Regions from separate parts of the Homo sapiens genome. Here region 1 is linked to region 2. The links come from fine-mapping of genetic effects on plasma protein levels. A gene starts in region 2. The other region holds a variant in brackets. All regions are shown on one strand. Distances are between the middles of the regions.

Region 1 (3,512 bases), 10 kb before region 2:
GTTCCTTCAAGCTCCCCCTGAAAGAGAGAAGGTGGCGCAGCATTAGTGCGGCAGCGAAAACCAGCCCCGGCCCTCTTTATTCTACGTGGGGGTTGGGACTTAGAGGGAATGAGGCGAGCCCCCGGAAAGTGAAGGATGATTCCAGGGGATCTGAGCATTAGGCAATTATAAGGAATGGTCAGGGACATTTGGGAGTAACTCTCTCATTTCATCTCACCTCTTTTTCAGGTGTCGATTTCCCACAAACTGAGGAAAAAGAAAGAAAGCATCATAAATTTCACTTCCTCTCTCAGCCCTGGCACCCTGGACTCAGCTGGCAGTGGGGACTTGTGGTGACATGCCTCAGGGCCTATGTGGCCCCAGGGACGAGAGAGCTACTGATGCAGCTCGACATCTCCCCAGCCATCCAGGGCCACCTTCTGCCCAGAGTCCCCAGCGGTATGAACTGAGGGGACACTCCTCACCTCCCTCCACACATGTCCATCGCACCCACCCATGTCCTCCCTCACCCCCACCAGCTCCCTCTCCCTCCCAAAGCCCCCACTCACCAATGGAGTAGAGCTTGGACTTCCACCGTTGGTAGCGATACATTAAACCAATGAAGAGGAGGGATAAAAGGCAAAGACCAAAGAAAATGACCAGGGGCAACAGCACTGTGGTGCCTGCAGACAAAGCAGGTGTTGGTCAGAGGAGCGGGCAGAGGGGGGCCGCAGGGATAGATGGATGGGTGGGATGGATGGACGGGTGGGGGCAAGAAGAGGGAGAGGGCAGGTGAGCATGGGCACCAGGTCAC[T/C]TCTCCTCACCTGAGTCCTCAGTGCCCTTAACATTCTCAATCTGGGGTAGGCACAACTTCGTGCACTCCAGGCTTTTCTTACAGCTAAAAGAAGAGACGGCACTGGTGAACAGAGGCCCTACCATTGGAGGAACACAGAAAAACAACCACACAGATTGTTGGACATCCTTTCTTTACAAATATTTTTGCTGTCTCTTGATATAATTTGTTTTGGGAACTGATGCAGAAGAATGAAACACAGTTAATCATAGAATCATTTAATTTTAGAATTGGCAGGGATCTTGAAAAGGCTGTGTAGAAAATGTGAAAAGCAGTCAGGGTCAGGGTGTAAATTCCAGTTCATTCCTTGGCTAGCAGTGTGAATCTAGGCAAGCCATTAACCCCCAAGCCTCGGTTTCCTCATCACCACAGGGATCGCCCACCTCTCAGGATTGAGGATTAAGCAAAATCATTATGCCTCATTTAATAAGTGCTTGAGAAGGTAGCCAGCTAGCTGTTATGGGATTGTTGTTTCATCACTGTTTTGCTGATAAGAATCCTTTGGCAAAGAGAGGTTAAAGGGCTTTTTCTTAAATGACACTGCTAGTTACAGTACCTGACTTCGGGGAGTCGGGGTCAAACATGCATGTGAAAAATTTAAAAACACATGTTACTGGGGCAGCCAGAGAGCACCCTGTAGAACTAGCAGATCTTCCATGTTGGGAGTTGTCACTGGACAGTGTGGAGTGATGGGAACTCTATGGGGTGGTGCTGGAAGGAACTTGAGAGAGTGAGTTCCCAGCAGGAAGCTGAAAGCAGGGAGAGGCACTTTAGCCCACCACTCAAGCTCATGGTGAGAACCACATAGAATGGTATAAAAGTGATTTCAAGAAGAGATGAAGCCGGCTGGGTGCAGTGGCTCACGGCTGTAATCCCAGCACTTTGGGAGGCAGAGGCAGGTGGATCACCAGGAGTTTGAGACCAGCCTGACCAAGATGGTGAAACCCCATCTCTACTAAAAATACAAAAATTAGCCAGGCATGGTGGCACGTGCCTGTAATCCCAGCTACTTGGGAGGCTGAAGCAGGAGAATTGCTTGAATCTGGGAGGCAGAGGTTGCAGTGAGCCGAGATCGCGCCACTGCATTCCAGCCTGGGCGACAGAGCAGGACTCTGTGTCAAAAAAAAAAAAAAAAAAAAAAAAGAAGATTAATGGAAAATAAATAGTTTTGTGTCAGACGTGTTGTAGGTTTTGTTTGTTTCTTTGTTTTTGGTTCTCACAAATTCACCAAATGAATGTCATTATGCTTACTTTAAATATAAGAAATCTAAGGCCCAGGCCAGGCGTGGTGGCTCATGCCCGTAATCCTAGCACTTTGGGAGGCTGAGGCGGAAGATCGCTTGAGCCCAGGAGTCCGAGGCCAGCCTGGGCAATATAGTAGGACCCTGTCTCTACAAAAAGTAAAACATTAGCTGGGTGTAGTGGTGTGTGCCTCTAATCCCAGCTACTCAGGAGGCTAAGGCAAGAGGATGGCTTGAGCCCTGGAGGTGGAGGCTGAGCCACGGTTGCACCACTGCACTCCAGCCTGGGTGACAGAGTGAAACCCTGTCTCAAAAAAAAAAAAAAAAAAAAAACACCAAAAGAAAAGTCAGGCTCAGAGATGTTAAGAAACTTGCCCAACGTCACATAGCCAGTAAGTGGCTATGCTGGGGTTCAAACTCTGAGAGCCCTCAGAGTTTATTCTTTGCAAGTGAGTGACAAGAACAGCCTCTGTGGAGCCAGGAGTAAGGAGGCCTGGACAGTGACTAATGAGGAAATACCATATTGCATCAAACCTAAGACGCCATCAAGAATAAAAGGCACTTTTCTTTACATTACTACCCAGACGCAAACAGAGCTGCCAATTCAACCATGATGAGTCACCAGTTATAGGAGGTTTGATTTCAGAGCTATAAGAGTGTATGTCCTAGAACCAATGAGCTATCGTAGATCCAAGAATCTACATATCTGAGTTGGAAGGGCTGCCAGCCCTTGGGGCATGATCTTCCATCCTCAAAGACTTCTTCAGATTTGAAGAGCAAGGGGAAGGACTGCCTGGTGTCTTAACGAAGTGTCTCCTACTCAGCCAGTAGGACCCTGAGCACTCTGGGGCATCCTGGCATCTGTTGCCCAGCTAATGGTTCCCACCAGTCACCCGTCCCAACCCATGCCACCATCCAGTGCCCAGCAGCTCTCAGAGATACTCACTTACTACAGGAGACACACTCGTTTTCTCTTAGAAAGAAACCTGCATGGCAGGTGCACACGGTGTTCTGTTTCTCCTGGCCTGTAGGGAGAAGTGCGGCACAGCTAAAGGAGAAGCGCCTGCACCCCCACCCCACAGGACAGAGGAAGTGACGAGGGACAGGGTGGGGGCGGCCAGAGAGGAGTTGGTTGTCAGACCCACAGAATACAGGAGGGGGAAGGAAAGGAAGTGCCACCGCATGGGGAAGGGGCCAACCCCTGGGGTGGGGAGAGGGCTTGGCCTCAGGAGAGCTGCGCTCACAGGAGAGGTGCACGGTCCCATTGAGGCAGAGGCTGCAATTGAAGCACTGGAAAAGGTTTTCACTCCAATAATGCCGGTACTGGTTCTTCCTGCAGCCACACACGGTGTCCCGGTCCACTGTGCAAGAAGAGATCTCCACCTGACCCATTTCTGGTGAGGGGAGAAGATGGGGTATGAGTCCTGCATCCTCCTGTC
Region 2 (5,519 bases):
GGCAGTGACTTCAGATGTCAGCTCCACATCCACTTTTCTATGAGGCTTTCCCTCCGCCATCCCATCTGACACATCTCTTGTTCCTTAATTCCTTCAGCAAATAGTTAAGGGGCACAGTTAATGTGACAGGTCCCGTATGGGTGCTAGGGATGCTGAGGTGGATAATACACAGCTCGTGCTCTCAAGAGCTCTCACTTGAGTCAAAGACAGTCAGTTGTAGGCACTGAGATCTATACAGGGAGTGCTGCAGTTGCACAGTGAAGGACACTGAAGCAGCGTGGGGAAGCTCCTGAATTTTCTGGAGCTGAGCGCAGGAGCTGAGACCTGCTAAGCAAGGAAAGGCAGTGGACTAAGGCTCACCTCCTTCCCCAGTTCCTCCTCCTCCCAACTGGTGCTCCAGGACACCACATCACAATGCATTTGTGGATATTTTCCTCGGGATTGCTCTGAAATCATTTTTCACTGTAAGCCATCTTGGTTACTAGGCTGTAAGCTCTTTGAGAGCAGCAAAATCCTGTTTGCTTTGCCACAGTCTCTCCTGTATCATTCTTCCCTACTCCCCTACCCCACTTCTCTCTCTCTCTCTCTCTCTCTCTCACACACACACACACACACACACACACACACACACTGTGAGCTCTGCATTGCCCACTGAATGGTGAGAAATTCAGAAGGATGTTGCATTCCCTTTGTTTTCCCTTTCCTCCAGCTCCAGGCCAGGCTTCTGTCCCTTAGGAGACATAATCCCACCTGGGCTGAAGCACCCCAGGACGCAGGCACTTCCCTTTACCTGTTCAGGCTACCTTTACCCTCTGTTTTCCCAACACAGGTAGCCACCCAGTAATTACTACTAGTCACAGCAATATAAAAACTTTATTGAGTGCTTTCTATTTGCTACAACCTATTCCCCTGATGGACTGTCAAAGCTGTGGGCAGGGATTTTGTTCTCTGCTGTAATCCCAGCACCTATCACAGTGTCTAGCCCAGAGCGCACACTTAATAAATCAAATGAACACTTAACATGTATCAGTCTATTCAATCTTCAAAACAACAGTATGAGGTCAAGACTGTGACACCCATTTTGGAGATAAAGAAACGAAGGCATGGAAGGTTAGGTTATATAAGCTGCTCTTGTTCATGCAGGAGGTATGTGAGGGAGCCAGGGGCCGCCCCCAAACAGAAAACAGAAGCAGGATGTCAGGGCAGCTGGCTGGTGGGGAGACCGTGGGGGAAGGACAGTGGGAAGAAGGGAAGAGCGGGTGGGACTAAGGAGGCAGGAGGAGGCAGAAGAAGAAGAGTGAGACCCTGACCAGAGACGTGCTGCCTGGGGACCTGGGGCCGGGACCAGAGCGGAGCAGAGAGGAGGGGAAGGAGGATTAGCGAGAAAAGATTTCAAAAAAAGAGGCTCTGAGAAGTCTGAGGAGAGTCTGGGGAGATTGCTGGAAGAAAGGAATGGTAGGAGAGGAAGAGTATAAGGCACTAAAGAGAGGGGAGGTAGGCGCAGCCTTCAGAGGCCGGGCAGGGCAGGGAAAATCTGCCTGACTAGATGGGCCCAGGACATCTGAACAGGATGATTCCCGGACCAAGACGTGGAGGACGATCAAGGATACATTGAAACAAGGCTGAGGCCAGAGAAAGGGACATTTTCCAGTGACGAAAACAACTTTCTACCAACTTCCCCAAACTGAACTGTAGAATAAGAAACCAAGGGATTGTTGTTTAGGTCTGTGAGAAGCAGCGGGGAGGGGAAGCTGGAGGACAGGCCCAGGGACACTGACCAGGTGGGGGTAGGACTAGCTCCCTGGGAAGGCTCAGTCCCACAGCGGCTACCTGCCTAGCAGCAGGCAAAAGGGTAAAGAATGTCCCCAGGTGAGAGGCCGGGGCTTGGCCAGGGCACTGGGGACACTGTCCACTGGGTTGCCCTGCCCCATCCAGTGTCCCAGCCCATTCTCAAATACCTCCCACCATGAGCATCCCAAACCCACCACACCAGCCCATCCCCACTCCTCAACTCACTCCCCCACTTCACCAGCCGCCAAAATCCTGCCCTACAGGGTGTGCTCCACCAAGTTCCACAGGCAGCCTCGCCTCCCCACGGCCCAACACCCTCCAGGCCAGCCAGCTGACCGGAGGGACAGAATTCAGAACCGTCTGGACTCCCCGAGCACTAATCTTCCTACTCCCACTCCCTTCTTTTCCCCGCCAAATCTGCCCCACCCTGGGCCTATCTCCTGCCCACATTCCCTTGGCCGCCCACAAACTTCCACCGCTGTCAGGGGCCAGGGCTTCCTTTTACTCTCTCCCTTTCAAACTTCTCCCATTCCCCTGCCTCAGCGCAGCCCCTACTCCAAAAGGCGGATGAATGGGGAACCCCACACTGGCAGTGGCTGAGGTTAGGACCTGCAGGCCTGAGGCTGGCGCCAGGACCAGGCCCGGGCAGGAGAGGCTCGGCCCCCTCCCGGAGAGGGCCCACGCCAGCCGGAAGGTGCCTCGCCCACCAGCCCACTCTTCCCTTTGTCCCTGGTCTCACCAGTGGCAGCAGCAGGTCAGGCACGGTGGAGAGGCCCATGCCAGACAGCTATGGCCTCTCACTCCCCCATTTGGGCTCAGGGCAGTGTGGCAGCGGCAGTGCTGGGGCTTCCCGGGACTCGGTCTGTCCAGGACGTCCCAAGTGCCTTGGGGTGACAGTTGAGGGTTGAGACTCGGGCATAGAGATCACGGCCTGGTCCCAGTGATCTTGAACCCCAAAGGCCAGAACTGGAGCCTCAGTCCAGAGAATTCTGAGAAAATTAAAGCAGAGAGGAGGGGAGAGAAGGTGGGAGGGGAAGAGTGAGGCAGTGTTGCAACAGCGGGACAGGAAGAGCTGGAGGAGGAGGCCACAGGAGGCGGGAGGAGGAGGCCCAACGTTCTTTAACTCTTTGTAGTCCAGTCACAAGCACAGGAGTCCCAGATCTGGCTGCCTTGTGCCCCCAACCCACCAATCCGACCACTCCCAACCAAACACCAAGGGGCAATAAGCCCCTTGCCCACATCACTAGCCTTTCCCAGATGGATCACAGCAGTGAAAAGATCCAGAGTCTGGGAGTCAAATTCTCTGGGTTCCAATTCAGAATGCTTAGCTTTTTAGCTAAGAATGTGTCTTGGACACATAAATGAACTTCTCAGACACATAACTGAAACTGTCTGGATCTGTTTTCCAATTTGCAGAGTGGAGATAACCTGTCTCCTGGGGTTCCTGTAAGGATTTGTTCAGATGGGAGAGATATAGATAAGCGTCCGACACATGATAGGTACTCCATGTCCCTTAGTAATCCTCCCCTTTACTCCAGAGTTCTTCACTAGCCTCCTAGTCTCCCTCTTTCTTGGGAATTTACTGATCCAATCCAAAACTCAAAGTAAGTCCCAACCCTCGTTTTCTGCCCTGACTGGGTGCCTGCCATTCCTCACCCCAGGTCTCATCCAGTCTCTGCCTGGCCAGGTCCCCCCACCCTGCCCCACTGTTGATCCTGGCTCTGCCACCAATCATGCGACATCAGGCAACTCCTCTCCTAAGCCTCTGTTGGTTCCTTGTTTATTAAACAGGGGTAACAATGTCTGCCCACCTACATGGGGAAAGTGATGCCATGAGAATCAATGAGACGTATCCACGAAGCTGCCGTGGAAATAAAGATACCTCCATCAGGTGTTCCTAGCATATTCCCAGTGCCCTTTTCCTAAATATTCCAATACATCAATTATAACTCACCTTACAGATCATCGACTACAACCCCCTAGGTTTTTTTATTTCTTCGTTTGCTTGTTTTTCATTTTTGTTTTTGTTTTGAGGGTCCGCTCCGTTTCCCAGGCTGGAGTGCAGTGGTACCATCGCAGCTCACTGCAGCCTCGACCTCCCAGGTTCAAGTAATCCTCCCACCTCAGCCTCCCAAGCAGCTGGGACTATAGGTGCATACCACCACGCCTGGGTAATTTTTGTATTTTTTGTAGAGACAGGGTCTCACCATGTTACACAGGCAGGTCTTGAACTCCTGGGCCCAAATGATCTGCCCACCTCAGCCTCCTAAAGTGCTAGGATTACAGGTGTGAGCCACCGTGCCCACCCAACTGCCCGGTTTTATAGAGGAGAAAACTGAGGTCCAGAAACCCAATGTGCCAGGAGGCAGAGCCAACAGAGAACCCCAGACTCCCGACTGCCGGTCCAAGGGCCCCTTTGGCTATGAGAGACACACTGCCACTTTTTCTGTCACTGAGTCAGACCCCACATCCTGACTCTGGTTACTTTATGCCATCCTCATTGATGCAGACATCTCCCAAGAGAATCCTACAACAAAGGTACCACATTTACCCAACTATCTTCTTGGTACAATGACCTTCCCTACATCCAGCCCCGCCCAAGGGCCTGCAGCTGCTGAGGCTGCTAGAAATGCAGGCAGACAGAGAAGAGGGAGGTCCTAGGGCTTTGGAACTTGAAACCAGAGCTCCTCACCCCTTATCCCTCTGAGATGACCTCCCAGCCCCAAGTCCACCGTCCCCTGGCTCTTCCTGGCTTCCCCTCTGTGATCCGCAGATGAGAATGGAGCTTCAGTGTCCCTCACTGCGGGGGGAGCTGACTTTACTCCACCCCATCGTCCAGCTTCTGGAGAACTGTAGGGTTGAAGCTGGATTCAGAAAGGAAGCAGCTCACCACCATCACAAAGGGAGACCCCAGGGACAGGAGAAGCGAACCCAAAGCAGTGTTCTTGAAGAAGCAGGAGCCTCAGAATCAAGTGCAAGTTTCCAGTATGAAGCAGCGAGAAGAACCTCGGTCTGCTCATCTAAAAAATGGGAAACCTGCTGGTACCCTTCACAGAGCTAGCTTGATGCTTAAATCAAGCATATAAAGTGTTTGGCAAGTGTTTGCCATATATTAAGCATTTAGTAAGTGGTAGCAATTAATTTTTTTTTTGAAACAGGAGCTTGCTCTCACCCAGGCTAAAGTGCAATGGTGCAATCATAGCTCACCTAACCTAGAACTACTGGCCTCAAGCTAGCCTCCCACATCAGCCTTCCGAGTGGCTAAGACTACCATCGCACACCACTATGCCCAGCTAGTTGTATTAATGATTAATAACAACTTCAGAAGGATAAGTGATACAGGGGAGTATGGTATGTGAGAGGGCGGCAAAAAAAAAAAAAAAAAGCAGAGTGCGGTGGCTCACGCCTGCAATCCCAGCACTTTGGGAGGCTGAGGTGGGCGGATCACAAGGTCAGGAGTTCGAGACCAACCTGACCAACATGGTGAAACCCTGTCTCTACTAAATATACAAAATTAGCCAGGCGTGGTGGCGCGTGCCTGTAATCCCAGCTACTCAGGAGGCTGAGGCAGGAGAATTGCTTGAACCCAGGAGGCAGAGGTTGCAGTGAGCCGAGATCCTGCCAGTGCACTCCAGCCTGGGTGACAGAGCGAGACTCTGTATCAAAAAAAGAAACCAACTTCAATGTCCTATTTTTTTTTTTGATAGAGTTTCACTCTTGTTGCCCAG

Alleles and levels. Alleles are on the strand shown, and positions count from the first base shown. The strength of an association depends on the size of the effect and on how common the allele is.
For the plasma level of the protein whose gene starts at base 2,831 in region 2, allele T in region 1 goes with a higher level than allele C (weak association).

The links. PIP is the chance, under the fine-mapping model, that this variant and not a neighbour inherited with it causes the effect. Protein levels are from antibody-based Olink assays in UK Biobank. Linkage for the fine-mapping came from a reference panel and not from the study's own genotypes, which makes the PIPs less certain.
Region 1: its variant is fine-mapped to the plasma level of the TNFRSF1A protein (UK Biobank, PIP 0.98).

The regions. Positions count from the first base shown.
Region 1 is chr12:6,330,050-6,333,561 of GRCh38, forward strand. TNFRSF1A (TNF receptor superfamily member 1A) reads right to left here. Exons shown (of 10, transcript NM_001065.4): 4 at 3,318-3,467; 5 at 3,020-3,098; 6 at 804-877; 7 at 549-662; 8 at 218-246; 9 at 1-17. Among named protein-coding and RNA genes, the nearest start is that of TNFRSF1A, 10 kb to the right of the region's middle. RefSeq lists an enhancer at 189-318. The variant T/C (reference allele first, on the strand shown) is at 794.
Region 2 is chr12:6,339,246-6,344,764 of GRCh38, forward strand. TNFRSF1A (TNF receptor superfamily member 1A) reads right to left here and starts at 2,831. Exons shown (of 10, transcript NM_001065.4): 1 at 2,531-2,831. The coding sequence starts at 2,569. It also overlaps the pseudogene RN7SL391P. RefSeq lists an enhancer at 2,634-2,733.